Linked DNA regions of Homo sapiens: region 2 is linked to region 1. The links come from fine-mapping of genetic effects on gene expression. A gene starts in region 1. The other region holds a variant in brackets. All regions are shown on one strand. Distances are between the middles of the regions.

Region 1 (2,804 bases):
GTGTGTAGTCGCAGCAAATGCTAGGAAAAAAAATAAATAATGGCTCCTCTTCAGTTGTATGCCGTGAATGTAAATTAAGAAGCCGCTACAACGCTCGACATAACCTTTCTGACGCCACAAAAATGAATGAATTATATCCATACACACACACAGGCACACACACCACGCACCACGCATCACATGTCATTCTGAAAACTGATTCTGAGCTTAATTCGAAAAACGTGAAATACAACTGGTCCCGTCAACAGCTCGTAATCTGAAGGTTTCTTGCATTTCCAAGCACGTCCATAACACCTCATCCGTTTCCAGTTTGTTACTGTTTCCAACCGAAGGGAGAGAATTTTCCACACAGAATTATCTCCTCGGGTCCAAATACTAGACCGAAGTCCCCACACGGGGCTGGCTGGCGGCGTGGAACCGGCCAGCCCGCCGAGAGCCGCCTGGCGCCCGCGGGGAAGACGCAGAGCCCGCGGCCAGGAGCCGCCCGGTGCCCCGGGAGTCGCCGGCCCTCGGCGGCCGCGCGAGGGGGATTCGCGCCCTCTGCCCATACCCGGACCCCCGCGCCGCCCGCCAAGCGGTCGGAGGCGCCTCTGAGGCGGAATGACTCAGGACCAACTTTCCAATAACGCCCGGGCCCCCCCGGCCGGCCCGGGCAGCGCGCTCGGCCACGCAGCCCCTGAGCCGCCCGTCCCCCCGCGTGAAACCCGCGGCCCCGCGGGGTGCCGGGTCCTCAACGCCAGCGGGGGTCACGGCCGTAGCGAGGCCTGCGCGCCCCGTTTCCTGAAAAGGTGCGGGCGCCCCGGCCCCCTCGGGCCCCGAGCCCGGCCTCCGGGACAAAGTTTGCCGAAGTTGAGGCGTCCGGAGGCGGGAGGCAGCCCGGCTGGGGCGCGGGGCCAGGCTGAAGCCGCGCCCCGCCGTCGCCGCTGGGACGGGCCGGGCCTGCGCCGCGCCGGGCCCGCGCCGGGCAGCCCCGAGGCCCCCGGGCCCCGCCGCCCAGGGCGCGGGATGGAGGCGACGGGGATGGAGGCGCCCGGCCGCGCGCCGGAGGCCCGCCCGCCCGCCGCGGCCCCTTACCTCGCGGTCCGTCGCCGCTCGGCCGGCTCAGGGGCGCCGGGCGCGTCCTCCGCCGCGGTCCGCAGCGTTCTGCTCCCCGGGCTGCCCCATGGCGGGGGGCGGGGAAGAGCCGGCGGCCGCCGCGGCTGCCGCCGGCTGGAAAGTCCCGGCTGGGCTGCAACCCCGGCTCGCGCACGCGGCGGCCGCGCCGCGCTCCCTCGCTCCCTCGCTCCCTCACGCAGCCCCGCGCAGGCACTTCCTCTCGCGCGCTGGAAATCCCCGGCGCGCCCGCCGCCCCGCCCCCGCCGCCCGCGCGCGTGGGAGCGGCAGGAGCCCGCGAGCGCCGCCGGCCCCACGCGCCCGCCGGCCCCCCGCGCGCGCCCGCGACCCGTTGCTAAGGGCCCTAGCGCCCGGCGGCCGCCCGCCCGGCCTTAGCAACGGCGGCGCCGCGGCGCGGGGCGGGGACGGCCCCGGGCGCCCCCCGCCTCCCTCCCGTCCCCGCCGCGCGCCCCGCGGGCCTCCTCGCTCTGCGCCGCCCCCGCCGCGCCCCCGCCGCCGCGCGTCCCCGCGTCCCCGCCTTTCCGGGTCAAAAAGCCACGCAGGCCGCGTGGGGGCCGAGAGGTGCTGGCGCCGCTCCTCCCCGCGGCCACCTCGCCCGCACCCCCCACGCCAGCATAGCATACGCAGCCCCCGTGCGTGCACGCCCGTGTGCCCATGGCCACACGCGACCCCTACGCACACGCACGGGTCCGATATGCGGCCCCCCGCACTGTCGCGGACGCATACACGACGGTCACATTCCCCTCAAGCGGACACGCACACACACGCTCACCAACACCGTGCGCACGCGTACCAGGCCACGCACCCTCGCGCACACGCAGGTGGGGCTGAGGGTGACTCAGGCCGTGGAGCCCCTTTTCGCATGCAGAGGGCAGGGCTCCACATTAGTTTGGTGGCACTTTCCTTTCTCCCTCCCTTGGACCCTCCCACGCCCCCGGAGTGGTGTCTTGCTCACGGGTGGACAGGGTAGCCAGTTTGCCACGTGCCCCCAGCGTCCTCGGCGGTCCTGGCTGCCCCTGCGCCCCCTGCACCCTCCACCAGGCCGCTGGGGCCTGCGCATTTCTCCCGAGGCCTCTGCCTTCTGCCCCAAAGGCATCAGTGGTGTGTCAGTGATTCACCTAGGCCCACCAAGGCAGCACCCAGCCTGGCTGGGCCTGGCGAGGTGGGAAGCGAAGGGAGGGCTTCTGGGAGGCTCTGGGCCAGCTGAGGGGTGAGGCCTTCGCTGGAGTTTGCAAGTCAGTGGTGAGGGGACAGAAAGGACTTTGCATTTTTCACTTCTCAAGAAGGCTTATAAAGAGCCCTACCCCAGAGCTGAGACCAGTGTGAGTAGCCAAGGCCAGTCTGCCTTCTTGTATTGCTCCAGTGACTCATGTGAGTGGAGGCAGGAAGTCCAGCATCTCCTCCTACAGCTTCACCCATGGAACGTTCCAGAACCCCAGATAGTCCGACCTGGCTGCTGGAAGTCTATCTGGACATCAGAGACATTGGACCATGTCTCTGGCTCCATTAGCCCAACAGATGCTTGTTCTACAGCCACACTCACCAGGCCACAGTGGCACCCCCGTCTGCGCCACAGGCACAGCTCTTTTAGAGGTGACAGGCCCGCCTTCGCCGTCCCTCACAGGGACCTATGGACTCCAGCGGTCTCCCCCACCCCCATGGTGGACTCCCCTTGGGAGCCTCAGGTGCCC
Region 2 (2,804 bases), 69 kb before region 1:
TTGGTCAATTCTCACCTGGAAAATTTTTAGAGCTTTTAAAAATGAAATTTCAAGGCCAGGCGCAGTGGCTCATGTTGTAATCCCAGCACTTTGGGAGGTCGAGGAGGGTGGATTGCCTGAGGTCAGGAGTTCGAGACCAGCCGGGCCAATATGGTAAAACGCCATCTCTACCAAAAATACAAGAATTAGCTGGGCGTGGTGGCACACACCTGTAATCCCAGCTACTTGGGAGGCTAAGGCAGGAGAATAGTTTGAACCCAGGAGGCGGAGGCTGCAGTGAGCTGAGATCATGCACACCACTGCACTCCAGTCTGGGCGACAGAGCGAGACTCCATCTCAAATAAATAAAAATGAAATTTCAAAAGGTAAATTTCTATAATATGAATAAATTTAAGATAAAACATGATTAACTACTGTATATGCATGTGCTTTGGGGATTTTCCACATTTTTTTAATGGAACATGCACTATAAAATCTGATTATTTTAAAACTGCTTTTACTATGAGGTATTACTTACTTATAGAAAAGCATAGAAAACATATGTATACCGTTTCATGAAGTTATTACATAAATACCAGTCCAACTACCACCAAGGGATGGAGCATTGCCAGAACTCCAGAAAGGCTGGGTGCCTCTATCTGACCCCAAAACCCTTCCACCACATACGTAAGTAAGTACTAGCTTTAACAAAATGATTTTGTTTGATTTGTTGACGCAGCATCTTGCTCTGTCACCCAGGCTGGAGTGCAGTGGTGCAACCACAACTCACGGCAGCCTCGACCTCCCAAACTCAGGCAATTCTCCCATCTTAGCCTCCCAAGTAGCTGGGACCACAGGAGGATGCCACCGTGTCCGGAAAATTTTTTTTTTTTTTTTTTTTTTTTTTTTAAGAAGCTGGATCTCCCTGTGTTGCCTAGACTGGTCTGGAACTCCTGGGCTCAAGTGATCCTCCCATCTCAGCCTCCCAAAGTGCTGGGATTACAGGCATGAGCTACTGTGCTTTAACTTTTATGGTTTATCATTTCCAAACTTTTCTTTAGAGATTTATCACCTAGGTGTGCAGCCCTACCAAACATAACTTATATAAAAACCAGAAGCAGATGAAAATAACAAAATCATACTACATATATTCTTGTCTTGCTTTTTTCTTTGCCTTTTTTGTTGTTGCTGTGTCTGTAGTTTATTTTCATTGCTGTGTAATATTCTACTCAGTAAATATACCATAATTTAGTTATCCATTCTCATCCCCGAGGGTGGTCTCTGCTTTGGAGCAAATATAAACACGACTTAAGATTTTTCTGGTACAGCTATCTCAATCACTTTAGGCATGTGTTTCTCTGGTGTACATACCTAGAAGTATGATTGCTAGCTTATACTCTAAAGCCAAACTATTTCCCAAAGCAGCTGTAATGTGCACTCCCAT[C/T]AGAAGGGTATGAGAGAGTTTCTGTTGCTTAACTTTTTCAACAACAATTGCCAAACTTTTTAATTCCTGCTAACTGAACAGCGGTATAATAGTATTTTTTTTTTTTTTTTTTTTTTTTTTTTTGAGACACGGTCGACCTCTGTCACCCAGGCTAGAGTGCAGTGGCATGATCATGACTTACTACAGCCTTGAAACTCCTGGGCTCAAGAGATCCTCCCACCTCAGCCTCCCCAGTAGCTGGGATTACAAGCATGTGCCACCACACCCAGCAAATTCAAAACTTTTTTTGGCTGGGCGCAGTGGCTCACACCTGTAATCCCAGCACTTTGGGAGGCCGAGGCGGGCAGATCACGAGGTCAGGAGATCAAGACCATCCTGGCTAACACGGTGAAACCCTGTCTCTACTAAAAATACAAAAAAATTAGCCACGCATGGTGGCAGGTGCCTGTAGTCCCAGCTACTCGGGAGGCTGAGGCAGGAGAATGGCATGAACCTGCGAGGCAGAGCTTGCAGTGAGCCGAGATGGCGCCACTGCACTCCAGCCTGGGTGACAGAGGGAGACTCCGTCTTGAAAAAAAAAAAAAATTTTTTTTTTATTTTTAGGCTGGGCACGGTGCTCATGCCTGTAATCTCAGCACTTTGGAAGACTGAGGTGGGCAGATCACCTGAGGTCAGGAGTTCGAGACCAGCCTGACCAACATGGTGAAACCCCATCTCTACTAAAAATAAAAAAATTAGCCAGAGCTAGTGGCGTGCGCCTGTAATCCCAACTAACCGGGAGGCTGAGGCAGGAGAACCACTTGAACCCGGGAGGCAGAGCTTGCAGTGAGCCAAGATTGCACCACTGTACTCCAGCCTGGGCAACAAAGTGAGACTCCATCTCAAAAAAAAAAACAAAAAATTTTTAGGGCCGGGCATGGTGGCTCACGCCTGTAATTCCAGCACTTTGGGAGGCCGAGGTGGGTGGATCACGAGGTCAGGAGATTAAGTCCATCCTAGTTAACACAGTGAAACCCTGTCTCTACTAAAAATACAAAAAATTAGCCGGCGTGCTGGCAGCCACCTGTAGTCCCAGCTACTCAGGAGGCTGAGGCAGGAGAATGGTGTGAACCCAGGAGGCAGGGCTTGCAGTGAGCCAAAATTGCACCACTGCACTCCAGTCTGGGCAACAGTGCGAGACTCCGTCTCAAAAAAAACAAAACAAAAACAACATTTTTTTTTTTTTTTAGAGGTGGGAGTCTCACTATGTTGCCCAGGCTGGTCTCAAACTCCTGGCCTCAAGCAACCCTCCCGCCTCAGCCTCCCAAAGTGCTGGGATTACAGGCATGAGCCACCACACCTGGCCAACTAAGAATTCTTTATTATAGAATTTCATCATAAT

Evidence for each region. PIP is the estimated chance that this variant, and not a neighbour inherited with it, causes the effect. A credible set is the group of variants that fine-mapping cannot tell apart.
Region 2: its variant is the best candidate, but not a certain one, in a credible set for the expression of TRAF3 in whole blood (TOPMed, PIP 0.64).

What each region holds. Positions count from the first base shown.
Region 1 is chr14:102,775,946-102,778,749 of GRCh38, reverse strand. TRAF3 (TNF receptor associated factor 3) reads right to left here and starts at 1,301. Exons shown (of 12, transcript NM_145725.3): 1 at 1,075-1,301. RefSeq lists silencers at 459-518, 759-808, 1,019-1,628, 1,719-1,778 and an enhancer at 2,489-2,728.
Region 2 is chr14:102,844,723-102,847,526 of GRCh38, reverse strand. All of the region lies in intron 2 of TRAF3 (TNF receptor associated factor 3), which reads right to left. Among named protein-coding and RNA genes, the nearest start is that of TRAF3, 69 kb to the right of the region's middle. The variant C/T (reference allele first, on the strand shown) is at 1,424.